7 linked regions of the Homo sapiens genome follow. The protein of the gene in region 4 purifies or fractionates together with the protein of the main gene of each other region. This does not show direct contact. Each region holds a gene or a part of one and is shown on either strand. Other genes may lie near its edges. The genes, in order: HERC3, NEDD4L, ACP2, ENTREP3, ANKRD13A, NEDD4 and ITCH.

Evidence for each region.
Region 1: the proteins of ENTREP3 (region 4) and HERC3 purify together in Homo sapiens (affinity purification with mass spectrometry; 2 studies listed by BioGRID and IntAct, with this or other methods). This does not show direct contact.
Region 2: the proteins of ENTREP3 (region 4) and NEDD4L purify together in Homo sapiens (affinity purification with mass spectrometry; 4 studies listed by BioGRID and IntAct, with this or other methods). This does not show direct contact.
Region 3: the proteins of ENTREP3 (region 4) and ACP2 purify together in Homo sapiens (affinity purification with mass spectrometry; 2 studies listed by BioGRID and IntAct, with this or other methods). This does not show direct contact.
Region 5: the proteins of ENTREP3 (region 4) and ANKRD13A purify together in Homo sapiens (affinity purification with mass spectrometry; 4 studies listed by BioGRID and IntAct, with this or other methods). This does not show direct contact.
Region 6: the proteins of ENTREP3 (region 4) and NEDD4 purify together in Homo sapiens (affinity purification with mass spectrometry; 4 studies listed by BioGRID and IntAct, with this or other methods). This does not show direct contact.
Region 7: the proteins of ENTREP3 (region 4) and ITCH purify together in Homo sapiens (affinity purification with mass spectrometry; 4 studies listed by BioGRID and IntAct, with this or other methods). This does not show direct contact.

What each region holds. Positions count from the first base shown.
Region 1 is NC_000004.12:88,651,480-88,654,979, forward strand, and holds part of HERC3 (probable E3 ubiquitin-protein ligase HERC3), read left to right. Parts: intron 1-532; coding exon 533-609; intron 610-1,389; coding exon 1,390-1,611; intron 1,612-2,562; coding exon 2,563-2,654; intron 2,655-3,500. UniProt on the Homo sapiens protein: E3 ubiquitin-protein ligase which accepts ubiquitin from an E2 ubiquitin-conjugating enzyme in the form of a thioester and then directly transfers the ubiquitin to targeted substrates.
Region 2 is NC_000018.10:58,327,226-58,330,725, reverse strand, and holds part of NEDD4L (E3 ubiquitin-protein ligase NEDD4-like), read right to left. Parts: intron 1,732-3,500; coding exon 1,599-1,731; intron 1-1,598. UniProt on the Homo sapiens protein: E3 ubiquitin-protein ligase that mediates the polyubiquitination of lysine and cysteine residues on target proteins and is thereby implicated in the regulation of various signaling pathways including autophagy, innate immunity or DNA repair.
Region 3 is NC_000011.10:47,238,815-47,242,314, reverse strand, and holds the end of ACP2 (lysosomal acid phosphatase isoform 1 precursor), read left to right. Parts: intron 1-2,065; coding exon 2,066-2,199; coding exon of another isoform or gene 2,200-2,232; 3' UTR 2,233-3,013; downstream 3,014-3,500. Other genes in the region: DDB2 (DNA damage-binding protein 2), read right to left, coding at 3,466-3,500.
Region 4 is NC_000001.11:155,246,705-155,249,594, forward strand, and holds the end of ENTREP3 (protein ENTREP3), read right to left. Parts: intron 1,770-2,890; coding exon 1,701-1,769; intron 1,600-1,700; coding exon 1,346-1,599; intron 1,252-1,345; coding exon 1,078-1,251; 3' UTR 501-1,077; downstream 1-500.
Region 5 is NC_000012.12:110,026,930-110,030,429, reverse strand, and holds part of ANKRD13A (ankyrin repeat domain-containing protein 13A), read right to left. Parts: intron 2,726-3,500; coding exon 2,664-2,725; intron 1,922-2,663; coding exon of another isoform or gene 1,919-1,921; coding exon 1,788-1,918; intron 953-1,787; coding exon 795-952; intron 1-794. UniProt on the Homo sapiens protein: Ubiquitin-binding protein that specifically recognizes and binds 'Lys-63'-linked ubiquitin. Does not bind 'Lys-48'-linked ubiquitin.
Region 6 is NC_000015.10:55,840,113-55,843,612, reverse strand, and holds part of NEDD4 (E3 ubiquitin-protein ligase NEDD4), read left to right. Parts: intron 1-1,449; coding exon 1,450-1,679; intron 1,680-2,885; coding exon 2,886-3,007; intron 3,008-3,095; coding exon 3,096-3,166; intron 3,167-3,500. UniProt on the Homo sapiens protein: E3 ubiquitin-protein ligase which accepts ubiquitin from an E2 ubiquitin-conjugating enzyme in the form of a thioester and then directly transfers the ubiquitin to targeted substrates. Specifically ubiquitinates 'Lys-63' in target proteins.
Region 7 is NC_000020.11:34,439,773-34,443,272, reverse strand, and holds part of ITCH (E3 ubiquitin-protein ligase Itchy homolog), read right to left. Parts: intron 3,119-3,500; coding exon 2,929-3,118; intron 1,066-2,928; coding exon 970-1,065; intron 1-969. UniProt on the Homo sapiens protein: Acts as an Acts as an E3 ubiquitin-protein ligase which accepts ubiquitin from an E2 ubiquitin-conjugating enzyme in the form of a thioester and then directly transfers the ubiquitin to targeted substrates.

The sequences.
Region 1 (3,500 bases), on a different chromosome or scaffold from region 4:
TAAAAATTACTTACTATGTACCTTACAGGGTTATGGGGAGGATAGAAGGAGACAAGTAGGTAAAATACAGTATGTGCTTGCACTGTATGGACTCCCTCTTCCCCACCTCAAGGGTACAATTTCTCTATTATCTGTCTTTGTTCTTCTGACCTGCTTCTTTTCTACAACTGATTGTGACAAGAGTAATGGTGATGGGGAATTGTTGAAGCAATTCTCTGCCTCAGCCTCCCGAGTAGCTGGGATTACAGGCATGTGCCACAACGCCCGGCTGATTTTTTTTGTATTTTTAGTAGAGATGGGGTTTCATCATATTGGCCAGGCTGGTCTCGAACTCCTGACCTCAGGTGATAAGCCCACCTTGGCCTCCCAAAGTGCTGAGATTACAGGCGTGAACCACTGTGCCTGGCCTTAAAAAGACTTTTAGGCAAGATGGTGTTATTTATTACTGACATTTTATTTAATTGGGAATATTTCTGATAATTGTGTTTGTGTGTGAATATCTATCTGAAAAAGAAAGCCTTTTCTGTTTTAGGTTAATACAAAAGCTGAACCAGCAAACAATATTACAAGTTTCCTGTGGCAACTGGCATTGCTTGGCTCTTGCGGCTGGTAAAGTAACATTAAACATATGCTAATGCTATGTTAATTTTGAAAACATTTCTCTTTGTCTTTTTGTGTGATATTATCTAACTGAAAACTTTGAATTAACTGGTTAGGGTCTATGCATTGCTGTTGGACAGTGACAATTCTCATATGGGCTTTGCATAGCTCATCCTTTTCTCAGGGTGTGGGTGATGAAGTAGGTGGTCATCATTGCTGCTCCAACTTTCACAGGGGAAGATAAGCAGGGGGCAGGACCATACCTAGGTGTTCTGAGCATGGAGGAGATTGATTTTTCTTAGCGACAGCCAACTCTCAAGCTACATTCCACTATCAAGCTCCCAAATGAATGAAAAAGAAGGAGTTGGAGAAACCTAAATAAATCTGCACTTCTGTGTCCTGCTTGATTATCTGCAGAGCAGACCAAGTGGTCATTGCTGGACCTCCCGAAGTCTTGGGTCTCATAGTCTTAGTGTGGTCAGAACTAGTGTGATCTTGCTTAAGCCTGGTAATTGGCCTGTCCGAAATTGAATTTACTTATACATTTAATATTTTCTGTGTATAAATTTTAATAGCCTTTGAAGGGCAGTAAGACTCAGCTTACCTCTCTGTTATATCACTTGGGAGTTTTGGTTTTGGCAGTCTGATAGCATGAAGTATCTCTGTTCCTTTGCTCTTGGGTGGGTTTGGTGTTGGGGGGCAACTGGCAAATGACCCTAATAACTAGATTATTTTTGTGTGTGGAGCTTGTATCATTTTATGGTAATACCAGTTATCCTGTTATTTCAGATGGCCAGTTCTTCACCTGGGGAAAGAACAGCCATGGGCAGCTTGGCTTAGGGAAGGAGTTCCCCTCCCAAGCCAGCCCACAGAGGGTGAGGTCCCTGGAGGGGATCCCACTGGCTCAGGTGGCTGCCGGAGGGGCTCACAGCTTTGCCCTGTCTCTCTCAGGAGCTGTTTTTGGCTGGGGGATGAATAATGCCGGGCAGCTAGGGCTCAGTGATGAAAAAGGTAGGTAAACCCTTCATATGTATGTATTTAGTTTAAAAGCACATTCATTTAACACATGCTTCTTGAGGATCTACTATGTGCTAGCCCCATGTGAGATACTAAGGGAGAAGCAGTGAACACAATAGAGAACATCCTCGTCTTAGTGGAGACTGTATTCTAGTGAGTAGAGGTGCAACAAAACCAGTAAATACACAGGATTTGAGAGTGCAGCTTCCTGCTTTACATAAGGTGGTGGGGAAGGGCCCCTCTGATAAGAAAATGTTTGAGCAGAACCTGTAGGAAATCAGGTGGGAGATGGGACATGTAAATGTCTGGGTGAAAAATGTTCCTGTCAGAGAGAACTGGGTGTGCAAAGGTGCTCATGTGGGAAGAGATGTAGTTGGAGAGAAGGGGAAGAGTAGCACAGCTGCAGGTCAGAGAAGTCGTGTAGACCCAGTTATGCAGGGCCCTGAGGGGCAGGGTGAGGATATAACTGGTTTTCTCAGTGAGAGGGGAAGACCCTGAGGGTTTGGAGGAGAAGCGTGATCCACTTTGGCTTTGGCTGTAGTGGGTCAAGGGGGAAGCTGGAAGACCAGCTTGGAGGTTGTGGGAGTAAAGTCAGATTTTAAACATATTTTGAAGATGAGGCCAGTTGGTTTTGTTCACTGTTGGATGTGTGGTTTGAAATAAAGGAACAGCTGGAAGGGCAAAATGACTGTTTCTGAAATGGGGAAAACCGTGTGTAGTAAAGTGAGCTGGAGAGTGGGCAGGGTTGGAGAGTGTAGGGAAACCATGAGGTAGGTTTTAGGTAAATTAAAACTGAGAAGTCTGTTGGATATCCAAGTACAGATGCAGGCAGGAAACTGAACATGCGTCAGGAATCCAGGAATCCAAAATTCATGCCAAGATAGTTGTGTATATTTCATCTCAAAGGCAAATGGTAGTGATATTCTGATATTTAATTTATTCTAGATCGAGAATCTCCATGCCATGTAAAACTCTTACGCACGCAAAAAGTTGTCTATATTAGTTGTGGAGAAGAACACACAGCAGTTCTCACAAAGGTAAGGAGCTCAGAGTATTTTACTTTGGTGCTGGGGATATGATGGGTGATTAGAATTGCTTGATTATGTTAGTGTAGTGATGGTGTGTGATTACAGTATTGTGGCTTGAACTTGAATGCTCTCTTTTATGTGGGTTTGTTGTTTTCCAAAGGAATAGAAAAAGACTACTTTTTTGTATGTCTCTGTTATCCTCTTTGGTAATCTTGTAGATTTTTCATATATATATATATATATATATATATATATATATATATACACACACACACATAATGTAGATTATATATATATACACACATATAATGTAGATTATATAAAAATGTAGATTATATATATAAATATAATGTATATATTTATATATATATAAATTCCTTGGTTCTTTATGGAACAAAGACAGCACTTTGTTATTTTTATTTGTTATTTTATGTATATATAATATATATAAAATGATGTCCTATGTTCCTTTAAAACAAGTCATTTAAATATGTAAAAAAGAAACAGCAATTTAATTAATGTTTTAAAATAATCATGTTTCTTTTGCTTCTAAATACATTCTAGAGAGAATGAAAATGTATTTTTATATTGAACAAATATTATTCTACGTTCACTTTGATAAAATGCCTTAACATTTATTTAAATACAGCTGTTAAAAAAACAGCTTACTTACCAAGGAATTTGTAGAGCACCTAATTTCTTACATGTGAATGATCATGTAAAATCATCTCATTTAGCCTAGCTCCTAGTTTCTCCTTTTTTAAAATTTTGCTTCCTAACACATCATTGTACTTTCAAACGATTTTAAAAATTTACAGAAGGCACACATTCCTTTGAGCATTGCTATCTTTGTTC
Region 2 (3,500 bases), on a different chromosome or scaffold from region 4:
GAGACACTGGGGTAAACACTAGAAAGAAGTAGGGATCCACCCAGCTCCCCAATGAAACCATGTAACAACAATAGCCCCGGTGATAACTATAATTAACACCTACTAAGTGCCTCTCATGAGGCACACAACCTTCACAATAATCACGAGGAAGATAACTCCCCCAATTAACAGATGAGGAAACTGAGGCACAGAAAATAACCTGCCCAAGGTAACATCTAGCAAGTGGTAGGGCCATGATGTGAATCAAAGAGGCCTGGTTCCAGACAGAGGCTGTGCTCTTAACCACTTTATAACAATGCCTCTCTGAACAGTGACTGATTTCCAGCACTTGTTACTATATGTGTGGGCAAAAAAACAAACACACACACACACTTCTCTGGAGTTTATAAACAATTGTCATGGATTTTCTTTTACTTTTAACCACTGAGGATTCACCGTGGGAGCAGCATAGAAGCTATACGCTGTAATTAAACAATGGTATAAAATAACTTAGAGTGAATGTGTTATGGAATCATTACTTTTGCTTTTCCAAGTTGAATCGCCGCATTCTAAATGATCTTCCTAACACAATGTCTAAGAAGAATGGATTTTTAGTACATAAACAGAGCTGGTAAGATAGCATGGAAGATTATGGCTAATTTGTTGTTTAATTCATAACGTTTTAAGTAACATACCATAACTATTTAAAGGGAAAATTACACATTTCTGTTCACCTAAATTTATATTTTCATGGTAATAAATCTCTTCCAAGTGTCAAAGCGACTCAATAAAAATATGCATATGATACCCAAACAAGTTACAGGGCTCATTCAACAGCTCAACTATGATAAAAACAAGCTGTCATTTAATGAGACATGGTTAGACCCCTGTGAAAAATAAATTACAAACTAAAAATATCTTAAGATTTTCATACTGAAAAATAATGTGGGCTGGACACAGTGGCTCACGCCTGTAATCTAAGCACTTTGGGAGGCCAAGGCAGGTGGATCATGAGGTCAAGAGTTCAAGACCAGCCTGGCCAACATGGTGAAACCCGTCTCTACTAGGAAAAAAAAAAAAAAAAAAAATTAGCCATTGTGATGGCATGCACCTATAACCCCAGCACTTTAGGAGGCTGAGGCAGCAGGCGGATCTCGAGGTCAGGAGATTGAGACCATCCTAGCCAACATGGTGAAACCCCATTTCTACTAAAAATACAAAAACTGGCCGGGTGTGGTGATGCGTGCCTGTAATCCCAGCTACTCAGGAGGCTGAGGCAGGAGAATTGCTCGAACCCAGGAGGCGGAGGTTGCAGTGAGCCAAGACTGCACCACTGCACTCTAGCCTGGGCGACAGAGCAAGACACTGTCTTCAAAAAAAATAAAAATAAAAATAATGTTATTCCCATTTCTATAATATAGAGCCACCTATACTTGTCAAATACGGCTTTTATAGGCACTTTCAAATTAATATTCAGATGGTAATTAATTCCCTGCGTCACTGTAATCTTTACATTCTCAACAATGTTTACTGACAGAAGAAATTATGATATAAAATCAAGCTGGAGAACATGGGAAGAAGGAGCTGCCGGGCTTTGCACCATTCTGGGGACATCGTACCTCGGGGACATCCCCGCCCTCCGAGGGCTCGGGCTCCAAGTCTTCGCTGATGTGCCTGCGGGAGCGGAAGCGCCGGTGTGCTGCCTCCTGGTTGATCTGTCTGATGTTATTGTCCGACTCCGAGGACACGTCCCTGAGCATGCAGGAAAGGGGGAAAGAGAAGAAGAGAAGTGGTTGAGATCGGGCCCTTCATGACAGTTCAATGCTCACGGAGGGCCAGATGGCCACTAAAGTGTCAGCGTCAAACACTGACAACTAGCTGGTCATCCAATGTGAGAATTCTCCCACCATATTACGGCTAAAGTATAGGTTAAGGTTCATTTCAATCAAATAAATGCAGTTTTAAAATGCATTAGTCACACCATTTTGAGCATCTTTCAGGCATACATTTCAAAATATACCTCAGTGTTTAATAAAAAACAGAAATCAAAGTCCTCTGCCCATTTGCCACAGTGACAAGTCAGACCTCTGGAAGCAGAGGTGACAGGCAAGTTCACACAGCAGCTGGGCAGTCCCAATCCTTCTAGAAGTCCAGCAATGACAAGGCAGCTACTTCTGGTCACCAGCAATTTGACCAAAGACTACAAAAGGGACAAATTCAAAGCTGTCATCTGGAGGAAAGTACACCTGATCCAACATGAATTTTTTTCAGCTGCTTTCTAGCTCATTTTAACAGAATCTCAAAATCGTGACACTGCATTTACCTCCTTTACCCTACTTTAAAAATCCTAATAACATCAGGAGATAACCTCTCAAGTCAGCCGGGGTCTGAAGAACACCAAAACATCATACCCTATTTTTTGTCATGTGATGTTCTCAATTCAGGATCTAAAAGTTTTGATTCAATTTGGAAGACTTTTTTGGGCTGGGCATGGTGGCTCATGCCTGTAATCCCAGCACTTTGGGAGGCCAAGGCGGGCGGATCACTTGAGGTCAGGAGCTCAAGACGTACCTGGCCAACATGGCAAAACCCCGCCTCTACTAAAAACACAAAAATTAGCCGAGTGTGGTGATGCGTGCCTGTAGTCCCAGCTACTCAGGAGGCTGAGGCAGGAGAATCACTTGAGCCCAGGAGGCAGAGGTTGCAGTGAGCTGAGAGATCATGTCACTGTACTCTAGCCAGGGCAGCAGAGTGAGACTCCATCTCAAAACAAAACAAAACAAAAAAAAAAAGAAAAAAGAAAACTTTTTTTTTTGCAGTAAATTATAGGCAATCATACTTTGGGGGAAATACTAGTCAGAGGCTTTTAGTGTACAAGTTTAAATGCCAAAAATTTTTTCAGGGAAAACTCTCACAGATACTTTCAATAAGATAACATATCCCATTAACAAAAATTATGTCACAAGTCAGTATCTCAAAAGTTGAAATCGTCATTTCAGACTAACTGAAATATAGTACTTATCAAGAACACTCATTATAGACTCTTTCTAAAACACAAATTTTAAAGTTTTCTCACACATTCTGAAATGAACTTATACTGTATCCCAATAAAGGGCCTGCTAGCAGAGGTTGTGGTGGAAACTCTTTTTCCTTAACTAACTTTCCTCTTGCCTTCTAGAAGTTATGCCCATTGGAAGGAGGCGCTCCTCAGGTTCTGCCAAGTTCTGCTGTGTCCTTCCTGGCTCAGCCTCTCCCTTTGGCATTGCTGCCTCCTTGATGGGGCAGTTATGCCTCTGCCTTCTCCCAAAACTACATGTGAGCCCGAACTTGGATTAAGAACTGCATTTTTCAGCCGGGCGTGGTGGGTCATACCTGTAATCCTAGCACTTTGGGAGGCTGAGGTGGGCGGATCACCTGAGGTCAGGAGTTTGAAACCAGCTTGACCAAGCCAGTGAAACCCCATCTTCACAAAAATACAAACATTAGCTGGGCATGGCGGCGGGCGCCTGTAATCCCAGCTA
Region 3 (3,500 bases), on a different chromosome or scaffold from region 4:
CCTCTCAGAATGGAATCCTTGAAAGAGCTGCCTAGAATCTGGCTCTGCTTCCTCACCACTTGTTCTCTTAGACTCACATTAGACAGTCTTGTGTCACCTTCCACTACCCTGAAGCCATACTTGTCTGGTGACCAGTCACCTCCTACCAAAGCCAGTGACTAATTCTTAGCTTCTCTCACCTCTCAGCAGCATTACATAATTGGTCACCCCTTCCTGAAACACTTTCTTGGCTTCTGACTTTCAGGCGTCCCTTCCTCACTAAAGAACGGATGACCCAGGACTCATCCCTGGAGCTTTCCCCATCTGTGCACACTCCCAAGTGATCTCATGCAGCCTCATGACTTTATGCCCATCTCCATGCCCACTTCTGTCCTTACGCCCTGACTCACAGATTCACAACCTCTTCTCTGAGCTAGAGACTCATATCCAGCTGCCAACTTGAGATCTCTACATGCATGTTAAGTAAGGCATCTCAAAGTTGCAATGTCTAAAACCAGATGCTTTTCCTTCCACAGCTGCTCTTCTTCCAGGCTTCCTTGTTTCAGTCAATGCCACGAGTCACCTAGTGGCACAGTATAACCCTTGGGGTCATTCTGCATACCGTTTCTCATACCCCTCATCCAGCCCACTGCCAGATCAGCTCAACCTTTCAAATATTAATATGTGCTCTTGCCTCCGCAGTCCAATCTACCGTCAGCTCTTGCCTGACCGAATGAAAAGCTTCCTAGTTCTTTCTGGTTCTATTCTTGTCCCTACCAGTCTTTCAACACAGCAGAGTTAACTTTTTTTATTTTTTTGAGATGGAGTTTTGCTCTTGTTGCCCAGGCTGGAGTGCAGTGGCGCAATCTCGGCTCACTGCAACCTCCGCCTCCCGGGTGTAAGTGATTCTCCTGCCTCAGCCTCCCGAGTAGCTGGGATTACAGGCATGCATCACCATGCCCAGCTGATTTTGTATTTTCAGTAGAGATGAGGTTTCTCCATGTTGGTCAGGCTGGTCTCAAACTCCCAACCTCAGGTGATCCGCCCGCCTTAGTCTCCCAAATTGCTGGGATTACAGGCATGAGCCACCGCGGCCGACTGAGTTAACTTTTAAAAAATGTAAACCAGTTCATACTACTGTCCTCTCAGAATTTTCTAGTGGCTTCCCATCACATATAGAATAAAATCCAAGTTCTTCACCATGGCCTTCTAGGCCCTACTCCATCTGGTCTCCTGCCCCATCTCCTACATGCCCCTTGCTTACTCTACTCTGGTGAGACTGACTCTTGATGATACTAGCATGTGCCAGGCTTATCCCCACATCTGGGCCTTTTGCCCTTCGTCTCCTCTGCCCTGTGATACTCTTCTCAGATTGTTGTATGTCATTCATTGACTCCAGGTCTCTGTTAAACTTCTCACTTTCTCAATGATGCCTTCCCTGCTGACCTACTTTGCTTTGTCTCTCTGTATCACATTCGTCACTGACCTGTCACTCCTAATTTTTTTTTTTTTTTTGAGACGGTGTCTCATCCTGTCACCCAGGCTGGAGTGCAGTGGCGTGATCTCGGCTCACTGCAACCTCTGTCTCCCAGGTTCAAGCAATTCTCCTGCCTCAGCCTCCCGAGTAGTTGGGATTACAGGTGCACACCACCATGCCCAGCTAATTTTTTGTATTTTTAGTAGAGACGGCATTTCACCACGTTGGCCAGGCTGGTCTCAAACTCTTGACCTCAGGTGATCCACCCACCTCGGCCTCCCAAAGTGCTGGGATTACAGGTGTGAGCCACTGCGCACGGCCAACTTTATTTAGTAGAGATGGGTTTTCACCATGATGGCCAGGCTGGTCTCCAACTCCTGACCTCAGGTGATCTGCCCACCTCAACCTTCCAAAGTGTTGGGATTATAGGCGTGAGCCACTGTGACCAGCCCATTTGCTTATTTATTACATCCCCTCTCCTAGAATGTAAACTCCATGAGAGCAGGGACTCTGTCTTGGCCACCTCTGTGTATCTCCTATATGTCAGAACAGTAGCTGGCATATGATGGAACGCTGACATGACCTTTCTCTTGCCTCCCCCATGCCCAGAGGTGATTGTGGCCTTGGCTGTATGTGGCTCCATCCTCTTCCTCCTCATAGTGCTGCTCCTCACCGTCCTCTTCCGGATGCAGGCCCAGCCTCCTGGCTACCGCCACGTCGCAGATGGGGAGGACCACGCCTGACAACCACTCAGCCCCCTTCCCTCCACCTCCTAGGGGAGGTGGGCTGGGCCCTCGCTCCTGACTGTTGCTGCTCCCCAGCCCATGGACAGGAGATCCTGGGTTGGGCCTCCCTCTGATGACCCCAGCCAGATGAGCGAGTGGGGCTCAGCGTGGCCCATGGTGCCTGTCACTCAGCATTCCCATGCCTGATGTTTACCAAGTGCTGTGTTGGACACTGGCTTTCTCCAAACAGGATTTGCCTCCTCCACGCTCCCTACACACCTGAGATGTAAACTGGCAGTCAGTGTTCACTCAGGACCTAGGATTAGAAAATGGCAGAGTTGGTGCTGGATCCACCTTGCACTTCTATCAAGCCCTGTTCTTTTTCCTCCAGCCTGAAGTCTTCGGCAAATAGCTCAGAGGGACACGGTCTTGCCTCTCAGTGCTTATTTTAGTGGGAAAAACAGCTAATACCAGGGGTACAAACATTGGCTCCCAAGGAACTGGATCACCCAACAGCCAGCCAGCCACATTTCCCTGTGTCTGGCTAGAGCCACCATTAGACTCAGACAGAATGCTTCAGGAATCGTTGTCACCCCTTCAACTGGAGCAGGACGGAAGGTTGTCTGTACTTGGGAGGGAGTAGGGAGTGGTGGGAAGGGAGTTGCTTGTCACACGAATCAGGAAACTGCTCTCCCTCAGCTGGGCTGGGGTCTCCAGGGACCTGAGCTACATGCAGGTTGTGAGCTGGAAAAGAAAGTTCTAGACTGTGGCCCAGAATAGGGCTGGGGCAGCTCCCAGAGAATGAATAGTGCTGTTTCCTATTGGACTGATAGTGCTGTTTCCTGTGCTTTTTCTTCATTTCTGAGACGCAAGAAGCTCTCTGACCAGGTCACTTCTGGAAGATCCACGCAGAAGCTCAGTCGGTATGGTTTTATTGGCCATATCAAAAGTGAGCACAAATCAAATAACTGCTTGATCCCTCTGCTACCACCCACTGAGAGGAGAAAAGTCATTTAGTTCCAAGATAACCTTGGTTCCAGGCTAGATACAGAGGGGCCCTTGGGACAGCTGTGTCACCAACTCTGGAGCAGTCTCTGGAGGCAAGTCCAGAGCATTAACATAAAAGTGTCCCAGTCCCACAGTGCCCCAGGTCCCAGCACCCCTGCTCCAACCCTAACCTTGGATACTTTTGGCCCTTTAACAAATCGCCACCTCTGCTTGCAGGACTTGATCCCATGTGTGGGCTCCAAGGCCTTGTCTGGCCCACACCTTCTTTAGTGTCTCTCACTTCCGTGTCCTGGCTTCCTCCTGGCTCCAGA
Region 4 (2,890 bases):
AGGGGAAGGAGTCTGATGGGGGTGGGTGAGGAGAGAATGGATGTTTAACAGTGGAGGGAAGAAAAAGAAAACCTATTGCTGTGAAAAGGAGGAGCAGAGTTACAATTAGTGGTTGGAAAGAGTGTCTTGAAAGTTTCTTTTTTCTTTTTTTTTTTTTTTTGAGACATGGTCTTGCTCTGTTGCCCAGGCTGTAGTGCAGTGGCTCAATCACAGCTTACTGCAGCCTGGACTTCCCAAGCTCAAGTGATCCTCTCACCTTAGCCACCTGAGTAGTTGGGACTACAGGCGTGTCCCACCATGCCTGGCTAATTTTTTGTTTTTTGTAGAGACAGGGTCTCACTATGTTGCCCAGGCTGGTCTTGAATTCCTAGGCTCAGGCGATCCTCTTGCTTCGGCCTCCCAAAGTGCTAGGATTATAGGTGTGAGCCACCATACCCAGTCCTGAAAGAGTTTTCTTAAATATGAGAGACACTAGAACAAATTTCACTGGTGACAGAGAATGATCAAGAAAACAAGGGGAAAACTGAAATTTATTGAAGGCTTACATACTGTTAAGAGCTTTACAAACATTCTACCTTCACAGTCTTTAATGGAGCAGGCAATTGGGGTTACATAGCTTGCCCAAGGTCATGCAGCTAGAGGTGGCAGAGCTGAGAGGCCACCTAGATTTTTTGGACTCTTCGTGCCTGCCTTACCACCCCATTGCATAGGCACACGTCACCCTGTACTTAAACACCTGGGCCATGCCTTTGCCCTGACCATAGTGCCCTTGCAAATCAGAAAGAGCCACTCTCATTCTGAGGGGGACAAGAATTTGTTTTCCTCCTCCAGTGCTATAAGAAGGGGCATCTCCCCCACAGTCTAAATACCCATGCAGCACAGGACAGAAGCTCTCCCAGTCCAGAGCAGCAGAGGCAAGCAGCAAGAGACCCCAGAGGTAGGAGGGAAAGGGACACTTTGGGGGGTATACAGCAGGTTTCTTTTTGTGCCAGCCAGTGCAAGAGGATGCTGGGGGCTGCTGGTCCCAACCAGCTGGTGCCTGTGGCTGGATGTGTTCAGTGTGACAAGAAGCCTAGGTCAGAGCCCAGTCTCCCGGCTGCCCCCGTTGAGGCTGAGGCTGTGGGGGCGGGTACCACGCTCCAGCCTGCGGCCAGACAGGAGACGCCGCAGGGAAGAGCTAGAGCTCAGATCTCCGCAGCTGCGAAGGTGGAGGCTCTCTCGGCCAGGCCGGCCCCACAGGCTCCGGGGCACCTGGACAGGGACACAAGAAAGGGCATCATCAATAAGGCTCAATCTGAAGCTCCACGCTTTCCCAAACATCTTTCCTGGCTCCCCGAATTCCTACCTGCTTATGTCCATGAGCTCCAGTCCCACTGGGGTCTGGGGCTTTCCTGGATATCTGGAGGAAACGAGTGACCAGGCCCCGACCTGGCCAGCTGCCCTTTAGGTCCCCCAGGGAGTGGGCAGGTGCAGGGCCCGAGGGCAGGGGAACTTTTTGGAAGGTGGGCACAGGGCGCCGTTTCTCGGCTGACCGGGCACGTAGCAACTTGGGGGAAGGGCAGCGGGCTAGGCGGAAGAGGCAGGCTTCAGAGCAGAGCCCTGCAGAGAGACAGAGATAAGAGAATGGTATTGTAGGGTGGAGAGGGGGCTGGGCAGCCATGCCCAATCCCCATCCCTGGGGCGCAAACCACATGCCTGACCTGTATCTGCAGAGGAAACAGAAGCAGCTTCTTCCTCAAGCACTTTGGTATAAAGGTCCCTGAAGTCAGCTGGGGAGAAGAGAGAAAGGGAGACAGGGAGTGAGTGGAAGTGTTCTGTGGACACGCCCACCCTCCTGTGGGAACTCAAGCCCAGAGGAGCTTTCACAGCTCCCACGCTCCATCCCCAATCAAAGGGCCAGCATCTCTGTCCATATTAGCCAGCAACTAGATGGTACAATCCACCACAACAAGGACTGCAGTGGTGTTGTTCAGCACCTGGCGCACAGTGCTGAGCGTTCCCCAGTACTATCTCCTTTCTTATTTTTTTGAGATGGAGTCTCACTGTGTTGCCCAGGCCGGAGTGCAGTGGTACGATCTCAGCTCACTGCAACCTCCGCCTCCCAGGTTCAAGCGATTCTCCTGCCTCAGCCTCCCTAGTAGCTGGGATTACAGGCGTCCACCACCAGGCCCAGCTAATTTTTCAATTTTTAGTAGAGATGGGGGTTTCACCATGTTGGCTAGGCTGGTCTTGAACTCCTGACCTCAGGTGATCCACCTGCCTTGGCCTCCCAAAGTGCTGGGATTATAGGTGTGAACAGCCTTGCCCGGCCACTGTCTCCTTTCTCAGCATCTTCGAGTACAATGCCTATGGCTGAAGTACTGTTATTATACATGTTTTTTGTTTGTTTGTTTGTGTTTTTGAGATGGAGTGTGTCTCTGTCACCCAGGCTGGAGTGCAGTGGCATGATCTTGGCTCACGGCAACCCCTGCTTTCCAGGTTCAAGCGATTCTCCTGCCTTAGCCTCTCTGTTAGTAGCTGGAATTACAGGCGCGCTCCACCACACCTGGCTAATTTTTGTATTTTTAGTAGAGATAGGGTTTCACCATGTTAGCCAGGCTGGTCTCGAACTCCCGACCTCAGGTGATCCACCCACCTCAGCTTCCCACAGTGCTGGGATTACAGGTGCAAGCCACCGTGCCCGGCCTGAAGTACTATTATTATACATGTTTAACAAGTGACAGCTGAAGCTTGGGGAGGACAGATAAGTGGACCAAGCTGAGAGCTGTGGAACTGGTTTCAAAAAATAAATCCTTTTGGGAGGCCGAGGCGGGTGGATCACTTGAGGTCAGGAGTTCAAGACCAGCCTGGCCAAAAGGGTGAAACCCTGTCTCTACTAAAAAATACAAAA
Region 5 (3,500 bases), on a different chromosome or scaffold from region 4:
TTTGGGAGGCCAAGGCGAGCTGATCACCTGAGGTCAGGAGTTCGAGACCAGCCTAACCAACATGATAAAACCCCATCTCTACTAAAAATACAAAAATTAGCTGGGCGTGGTGATGCATGCCTATAATCCCAGCTACTTAGGAGGCTGAGGCAGGAAAATCGCTTGAACCCAGGAGGCAGAGGTTGCAGTGAGCCAAGATCATGCCACTTCATTCCAGCCTGGGCAACAGAGCGAGACTCCATCTCAAAAAAAAAAAAGAGAAAATGAGTTATGTATTTTCTCCTAGATCACAGTGAGTAAGTGATCAAGCCAGGGTTCAAGTATCATGAACATACAACTATCCAAAATTAATACTCTTCATGAGTAGTATGTATGATATATACATATATAGCATTATGCATACTAGCTTGGGACGTAGATCATATTTACATATCAAAGGATCTTGGTGTCAACTGTCTTCCTCAAATAATTATCTAATTTGAAGTCTCACTGAATTAAGGTTTGACATTAAAACAATGACTGTGTCATGTTTTTATGCCTTTTTATATCTGTCAGCACCATTTGCAAATAGAAATGATGGTTGGAGATCTCTTGACTTTGATACACAAAATGAACCACTAATCATAACACTTCTTTAAATCAAACCACAGGAGAACTCTGACCTCCTCTGTTATGTCTATAAGCTACTTTGACCTAAAGCACTCCAATTCCCTGAAGCATCCTGCCACCCACATGCTGCCACCCACAAACATGGGCAGAACCTCCAAGTGTTGCTGAAGTTTATTTAGCAGTACCTATTTTGACAGGAAATCCAGGTGGGAATTCCAATTTGATGAAATCTCTCAGTCTTGCAAAATGAGCACTCGTTCGAGCCATTAGGTCAATGATGGGAATGACCTGCTCCACCAGAGAGAGGGGAAACTCTTCACACATCCACAACATTGCTTTAAACCTGCAGAATTCAACCAAGAAAAGACTGAGGTCATCTCCACCAGATGGGAAAAGGAGATTATTGCTATGCAGTAGGCTAGACAACAGCAGCTTTACTCCACACTCTGCCCAGTCATCTCTTAATTCAGACCTATTAAAGGTCAAATGTCTAGGGCCACAAGGAATTCACATCACCCTAAAATCTGGCAATAAAGGCAAGCGACCTGCATGACAACCTGCCACGATCAAAGCCTTAATTGACAGCAAGCATGAAGAAATGATAGCGGGTGGAACAGTTTCATTTGAATTTGATCAGCTGAAGCTGGTTAGCAATAAAAAAAAAAAGGAATTCTTACATCCAATCTAGATTCTATTTGGAAAGGAGCTAATAACATGGACAATCTACTGTTAGCTTTCATGGCAAAGTAATTTTAAAATTATTTTTTATAAAAAGGGGCAGAGGAGGCTGGGCGCAGTGGCTCATGCCTGTAATCCCAGCAGTTTGGGAGGCCCAGGCGGGCGGATCACAAGGTCAGGAGTTCGAGACCAGCCTGACCAATATGGTGAAACCCTATCTCTACTAAAAATACAAAAATTAGCTGGGCGTGGTGGCACGCGCCTGTAGTCCCAGCTACTCAGGAGGCTGAGGCAGGAGAACCGCTTGAACCTGGGAGGCAGAGGTTGCAGTGAGCCGAGTTCGTGCCACTGCACTCCAGCCTAGGCGACAGAGCGAGACTCCGTCTGAAAAAAAAATAAGGGTGGTGGGGAGGGCAGTGGAATGATCCAACATAACACCATAAAACAGCACAATTTCTGAAACATACATAGGTTGAAAATGGCAGCTGAACCTCTCTTACTTCTGTGTTCTAATCGTCAGCTCTTTCGGCCTTCCAATGTCCCTGTCTTTCAGATCAAACTCTTCATTGAAGTACTCATCAGGCGTGATGGCTGTGGGGTTGTTTGCAGTAGCACATTCCGTGGTGAGGTCCTGCTGAGCCAGAACTCAGGAGAGTCAGAAATGCCAAATGATGTTCACAAGTGAAGGCCTGTGGCACTCAGTGTCTGAGGTGGACGTGTTAACCAGCTAAAGACCGGGAAGTTCTATTCACTAACTTTTTTGCATGGAACAAGAAAATCTATGAGGATATCACCAAACTACACAGGAAGTGTAATGGATTTCTTCATTTTAAAATATTTCTCTACTCTCCTTTACATTTTTATCTCCTGATTATAACAAAGAAAAAAAGAAAGAAATATCTGAAAGTGCATGAGACTTGGAAGACTTGGAGTTGAAGTTCTAGCTGTTTCCCTGTCTAGCTTTGATAGTGGAAAGGTAATTTCATTTTTCTGACCCGCAGGGACATCCACTGTACCAAGTTCATATAGTTACTGTGAGCATCAAGTAAGAAAATATTTGTTAAGGTGCTCTGTTGCAATATAAAGTCCTGAATCCTTTTTAAGTTCCATTTCTATAAAGAGGCCCCTCGTTTATAATGGATAAGAGGGAAAGCACCTGATTTCTATAATCACTACCCCTCCTCTAAAATCCTTATTTATTTTCAAAGAGTCACTCATCTAATTCTCTTCCAAAAGAGTATCTCAAATTCCAGCTTGGGGGTATCTTTGGCCTTTACATAGAGTGGGCTGTTCAGGATCCAGTAAATGCCATCCCAGACACAGACAAGTTGTTTCCTTTCATCTAACTGCAATGAAAGCTCATTGCTTCAACTTACCCCTTGTGCACCAAATTGGTGTTCCACAGTTCCCAGCAAAGATTCCAGCGGGTTCCTGTCTGCTACAGAGGGGTAGGGAGTTTAAAGTCTAATATTATATCTCACTTGTGGCTATAAAAAAAAGATCTTCATTAAAGTTTCTGGTCCAAGCTACCTCATTAGGAAATGCAATTACAGACTGGCTGATCAAATCATTCACAATAACCATAAACTAATTTATCCTTTATAGGGTGCTTTTCATGAGGATCTCTAAACTAGATAAACAGTTGTAAGAATTAAAGCAGAATAATGGGAAGAGTCTGGATTTTGGAGTGAGCCAGACCTGGATTCCAACCCCACCTTGGCCACTCGCTACCCATGTGTTCTGGGCCTCAGTTCCCTCATCTGTCAAAGTGGAGTAATGGCAATGGTGGTGGTGGTGCTGGTGAACAATTACTGCATGCTTACCACATACTGCAGGCGCCATTCTAAAGGCTTCCACGTCGTAACTCATCTAATCCTCTCAATAACTCTAAGGAAGGTTGGGTATCACCTGCATTTCACTGCTGAGGAACTAAGGCACAGAGCAGAAGTAATTTCACAAGGCCATAGAACTGGTGGGGCTGGGATGGGGCTGGGATGTGGCAACCACATGCAATGTTTTTGCTTGGACCCCAAGTTCTGTCTAAATCTTTCATCACAATAGTTTGGACTAAATCACTCATTCCAATGATAAATATTCTCAAATGTCCTTATCTCCTTTTTTGGCTGAATTCAACAATTGTTCTTGATAACACATAAACAAGCCCTCACGAATAGCTTTAATTACAGCTGAGGCCAACTATGGGGAAACACCTC
Region 6 (3,500 bases), on a different chromosome or scaffold from region 4:
CTTCTTTTTTGGAGGTGACAGAATATTGATGGCATGTTTTCTCTTACTGGTTTCCCCTGGAAATTTGCCCATGAAGTACTGAGGAATAAAATATTTAGATATATCTTTTGTAAAATTTACAATAAGTTCTGCCTAAAGCATAGTTGTGTACATTTGTCACATAAGCAAAGAACGTACAAAAGATTAGTGAGGCAATGTAGCTCCATTAATTAAGAGCACAGACTCAGGAGCTAAGACTTTCTTAAGTCGTCTTCTTCAGTTTTATGTGTAAAATGAAGACAATAATAGTAGCTTTCGCATAGTGTTGTTATGAGGTTAAACACGTTAACCTGCCATTCCAGGGTACCCATGCCTGGCTGTTTTAGTCCGTTTTCATGCTGCTGATAAAGACATACCTGAGACCAGGCAATTTACAAAAGGAAGAGGTTTATTGGACCTACAGTTCTACATGGCTAGGGAGGCCTCACAATCATGGCAGAAGGCAAGGAGGAGCAAGTCACATCTTACATGGATGGCAGCAGGCAAAGAGAGAGCTTGTGCATAGAAACCATTAGATGTCGTGAGACCCATTCACTATCATGAGAACAGTGCAGGAAAGATCCGCCCCCATAATTCAATCACCTCCCACCAGGTTCTTCCCATGACACATGGAGATTGTGGGAGTTACAATTCAAGATTAGATTTGGGTAGGGACACAGCCAGAATATATCACTGGCACAGTCTGTAAATGTCACCATCTGTTAATGAGTGAAGCAAGATAGACTCCAGGGAGGAAAGTAGAGGTAGGGAAAAGCCTGAACAGACAGGCACAACAGCTAGCAGGCAGTGGCTATCCTACAGGTCACAGAACGGTGTTCATTGGAACTTAATATGAAAAGGACTGTTAACGAAATGCCTTCATGGGGGCATTACCATCACCATCAATTGCTTCTTTAGGCCGGGTGCCATGGCTTATGCCTGTAATCTCAGCACTTTGGGAGGCCAAGGCGGGAGGATTGCTAGAGCTTAGGAGTTTGAGACCAGCCTGGGCAAGATGGCAAGACCTCAAAAACTTAAAAAATTAGTCAGGCATGATGGCATGCGCCTGTGGTCCAGTTACTTAGGAATCGGAAGCAAGAGGATCACTTGAGCCCATGAGGTCGAGGCTGCAGTAAGCCATGTTCACGCCACTGCACTCCAGCCTGGACTACAGAGCTGTCTCCAAAAACAAAAGCTTCTTCAGATGTAAAGAAGTCTATATTACTAAGTGATTAAAGAAAATGCAGAAACTGTCTCATACCATAGAGGAAACCAAGACAATATACCTAGTTGTGTTTTCCCTGAGTATATTACGTAAGGAAAAAGAGACTTGGACACAGGGTGTAGAGGGAATGTTATAACTTTATGAGAGATGGGTTTGTTATTATGTTGAACTGATTTAAACAGTACGTCTCTCCTCTGGATTTTCAGAATGACATTCCAAACAAATTTGAAATGAAACTTCGCCGAGCAACTGTTCTTGAAGACTCTTACCGGAGAATTATGGGTGTCAAGAGAGCAGACTTCCTGAAGGCTCGACTGTGGATTGAGTTTGATGGTGAAAAGGGATTGGATTATGGAGGAGTTGCCAGAGAATGGTTCTTCCTGATCTCAAAGGAAATGTTTAACCCTTATTATGGGTTGTTTGAATATTCTGCTACGTAAGTACCTTTACAATGATTATCGGCAGAAAAAGAAAAATCACTGTTTTAAAAGTAAGAGTCGGCCGGGTGCAGTGGCTCATGCCTGTAATCCCAGCACTTTGGGAGGCCGAGGCGGGCGGATCACAAGGTCAGGATATCGAGACCATCCTAGCTAACACGGTGAAACCCCGTCTCTACTAAAAATACAAAAACTTACCCAGGCGTGGTGGCGGGCGCCTGTAGTCCCAGCTACTCAGGAGGCTGAGGCAGGAGAATGGCGTGAACCCGGAAGGCGGAGCCGAGATCACGCCACTGCACTCCAGCCTGGGCAACAGAGCAAGACTCCTCTAAAAAAAAAAGTTACCATTTTAGCCATTTTAAATATACAATTTAGAGTCATTACATACATTCACATTGTTGTGCTGCCATCCCACTATCCAACTCTAGAACTTTTTCATCTTCCCAAAATGAAACCCTATACCCAGTAAGCACTCGCTCCCCATTCCCTGGCAGCCACCATTCTGCTTTCTGTCCCTATGAATTTGACTCCTCGGGTACCTCACATAAGTGGAATCATTCAATATTTGTCTTTTTGTGACCAGCTCATTTCACTTAACATGATGTCTTCAGGGTTCATCCATGTTGTAGTATGTATCAGAATGTCCTTCCTTTTTAAGGCAGAATAATATTCCATTATTTTTGCATATAATGCTTTGTTTAGGCTGGGCGTGGTGGCTCATGCCTGTAATCCCACCACTTTGGGAGGCCAAGGCTGGTGGATCACAATGCCAGGAGTTCAAGACCAGCCTGACCAACATAGTGAAACCCTGTCTCTACTAAAAATACAAAAATTAACCAGGCATGGTGGCGGGCGCCTGTAATTCCAGCTACTTGGGAGGCTGAGACAGGAGAATCACTTGAACCTGGGAGGCGGAGGTTGCAGTGAGCTGTGACCGTGTCATTGCACTCCAGCCTGGGCGAGAGCAAGACTCCATCTCAAAAACAAACGAACAAACAAAACTTTGTTTATACATTCATCTGCCAAAGGACATTTGGGTTATTTCCACTTTTTGACAGAAATTACTATTTTTAAAACCATTAAATCCAGTGGAGGAATGTGGTTCTAACAGTGGTAAACAACTCTTAAAGGAGGAAGATTATTTGTAATTATTTGTCATATTAAAGTTTTTCAAATGAAGTATTTAAATGGGGTTGTCTTTACAGGGACAATTATACCCTACAGATAAATCCAAACTCTGGATTGTGTAACGAAGATCACCTCTCTTACTTCAAGTTTATTGGTCGGGTAGCTGGAATGGCAGTTTATCATGGCAAACTGTTGGATGGTTAGTATTAAGTATAAACTTTTTACAATATAATTACCTGTTTTCTTTCACTTGGTAATCATCCTAAATGTATTTGGTTTTTTGCAAGGTTTTTTCATCCGCCCATTTTACAAGATGATGCTTCACAAACCAATAACCCTTCATGATATGGAATCTGTGGTATGTCTTTTTCACTTATAGTATAGACGAAGTATAATTTAACAAGCAGCTTGAACATTTTGAAGAATTTGCTTTTAATGACATGGAAATTAATATATTATCATGTTTCAAAATACAAATGAACTTTTTCCTCAACATTTTATTATGAAAATTTTCTAACATATAATAAAGTTGGAAGAATTTTACATTGGACAGTTGTATATCAACTACTCACAATTGCTTTTTTTCTAGATTTACTTTATCACATACCTATCTGTCTATCCATCAGTCTGTCTTAGTTTCTTCATGCATTTCAGAGTAAGTTATAGATAACATTAAACATCCCACTAAATAC
Region 7 (3,500 bases), on a different chromosome or scaffold from region 4:
CCCAAGGTGCTGGGATTACAGGCGCGAGCCACCGTGCCTGGACTGTAATGTTAATGTTAATGTTAAAGGCTTAACACCATGTATTAATATATCCTTAACTTCCCCAATTAATTTGAAATGATTTTGCTATTATAGTTTTTTAAATATAATAAGAACTTCATTTTAATATATGACTGGGCTCTAATTCTTATTCATTTAAATAATTACTCTTGAAGAAACTAATACTTAAACTACAGTATTAGTAAACAGGTAAACAGCTTAGACAAGAAAAGTTAAGGAAATTTTTTTTTTTTTTTTGAGACAGAGTCTTGCTCTGTCGCCCAGGCTGGAGTGCAGTGGCGAGATCTCGGCTCACTGCAAGCTCCGCCTCCTGGGTTCATGCCATTCTCCTGCCTCAGCCTCCCAAGTAGCTGGGACTATAGGTGCCCGCCACCATGCCTGGCTTTTTTTTTTTTGTATTTTTAGTAGAAACGGGGTTTCACCACGTTAGCCAGGATGGTCTCAATCTCCTGAGCTCGTGATCCTCCCACCTCGCCCTCCCAAAGTGCTGGGATTACAGGCGTGAGCCACTGCGCCCAGCCCACCTAAGGAATCTTTAGGTCAGAAATGAGTGAAAATAGGGCCAGGCATGATAGCTCACGCCTGTAATCCCAGCACTTTGGGAGGCCAACGCGGGAGGATGGCTTGAGCTCAGGAGTTAAAAACCAGCCTGGGCGACATAGCGAGATGTTGTTTCTATAAAATAAAGAAAAGAAGAAAGAAATATGCGTGAAAACAAAAATTGTTTATCAGGCTCTGAATTAATCAGTTGTCTAGCTCTCTTCTTTTTAATTTGTACTTACCACAAAACAAAGTGGACAGAGAAAGGGCTGACAAGAAAAAGTAAAACAGAAATGTAGGGAAGATTATACAGTTGTAATCCACAATTCTGACTAAATAAAATTATTCTTTTTAAATTTAGATACTTACCCAGGAGGTAGAGGTTCTGGTCTATCCCATGTTGTTCTTTTCTCAACATGATCTACATAGTAAACTCGCCCGTGCTGGTCCACTCTCTGCTCCCAACTTAAATACAAAATTAAAAGGCTGGTAAAATACTTGCATGAGTTACCTGGCTTTTTAATCCTGTCTTTGCATTTCCATTAAATGACCATTATTGAACTAAGGCAAATAAGGACATCAGTTTAGAAAGATGATACAAATACAATTTAGGAATAAAGTGAAGAAATGTAATCTTCAGGCAGTGGCACACAGTGAATTCAATTTCTTCTATGCAAGTATCTGCTCTAGGAGAAAACATATTCCTGAAGAGGCTTGAGGTCCGTCTACCTAGGATACCGAAGTCACTCTCAATCAGGGTATAATCAGGATTTGAGTGGAAAGAAATGGCCAGGCGCAGTGGCTCTCACCTGTAATCCCAACACTTTGGGAGGCTGAGACGGGTGGATTACTTGAGGTCAGGAGTTCAAGACCAGCCTGGCCAACATGGTGAAACCCCGTTTCTACTGAAAATTCAAAAATTAGCTGGGCATGATGGTGGGCACCTGTAGTCCCAACTACTCAGGAGGCTGAGGCAGGAGAATCACTTTAACCTGGGAGGCAGTGGTTGCAGTAAGCCAAGATTGCATCATTGCACTCCAGCCTGGACAATAGAGTGAGACTCCATCTCAAAAAAAAAAAATTAGCTGGGCATGGTGGCAGGTACCTGTAATCCCAGCTACTCAGGATGCTAAGGCAAGAGAATCACTTGAACCCGGAAGACGGAGGTTACAGAGAGCTAAGATCCCACCACTGCACTACAGCTTGGGCAACAGAGCAAGATTTCATCTCAAACAAACAAACAAAAAATAAACAAGAAAAAATTACACCTGAGTATCTTAAAAACAATCTATGAAAATAATCTTAAAATAATCAGGAGAGATTAAAATGGGATTATGAGCACAAATTTTCTCAGTTTTCTGAATTATCTATCACTTTGCTATGATTTTTCTTTTTTCCCCAAGATGGAGTTTTGCTCTTGTTGCCCAGGCTGGAGTGCAGTGGCAAGATCTTGGCTCAATGCAACCTCTGCCTCCCAGGTTCAAGCAATTCTCCTGCCTCAGCCTCCCGAGTAGCTGGGATTACAGGCGCCTGCCACCACACCCAGCTAATTTTTTGTATTTTTAGTAGAGATGGGGTTTCAGCATGTTGGCCAGGCTGGTCTCGAACTCCTGACCTCAGGTGATCAGCCCGCCTCGGCCTCCCAAAATGCTGGTATTACAGGCGTGAGCCACCATGCCCAGCCTATAATGATCTTCTGATGAAAAAAATAGTTTGATATTAAAAAGGGATTTTTTCCCCCTTAAAGAAAAAGGCAATTGGAATTAGGTGATTATTTTATTAATTGGCCTTGGTTAACTTTCAGGGTCCTTTGATGAAAAAATATATTTTTCCACTTTGCCCTGAAGATTTCAAATATGGTGTGTTTTCCTTGTTCATTTTGACTCCAGATCCCCCAAAATCAGTTACAATAACATAAAAACAGTTGGCTGGGTGCTCATGCCTGTAATCCCAGCACTTTCAGAGGTTGAGGTGGTCGGATCACTTGAGGTCAGGAGTTCGAGACCAGCCTGGCCAACATGGTGAAATCCCCTACTAAAAATACAAAAATTAGCCGGGCTTGGTAGTGCACACCTGTAATCCTAGCTACTAGGGAGGCTAAGGCAGGAGAATTACTTGAACCCAGGGGGCGGAGGTCGCAGTGAGCCAAGATCACACCACTGCACTCCAGTCTGGGAGACAGAGCACTCCATCTCAAAAAAAAAAGAAATTAAAAAACAGTCATCAAAACAATGGAGTTTACTGTTGTTTACTGTTATTTTCCTTATTAATAAGTAGGCTTATGAAGAATCCTAAAGACAACATATGTTAATTTAAAAAGTTACTCACCCAGGTGGCAAGGGAGCTTGAGTTACAGGATTTAATGGCCTAGGGCCTGAGCCTCCAGATATAGTAAGAGGAATTATTAATCCAGATGTTGCTCCTTCAGATGTATTTGTATTTGTATTTGTCGGCGGCAGAGAGCCTGTACTAGACCCATCACTTTCAGAAGTGGCAGATGGTGAACCATTGACAGATGCTATAAAAGATTTGGGGAAAATAGGAAAAGAATCTTTCATTTTCTAAAATTCAGGATAGAATTTTAACTGTAAAAAATAAAAGGCAGATGATAAATATAAAACTTAAGATGTAGATGCACAGGTGAAAATTACTTAAAGAAATAAGTAATGGGAAATAACCAACGCTGCCAGTTAATAGGCTTGTTTACTTTTTCGGTCCTGTCTACCCCTATGTCCCATTACTAATCACGAAGCATGTACAGGTTCTCTGATCTTCTGATGTCACTGGAAATAAAAACTTTTAGAATAGGAAATTATTAATATTCCTTGGTATTTTAAGTTCATTTATTAATTTTCCAGCTCCTTAAAACTGCTTTCCTGTGAAACCGTGCAGATTACAGA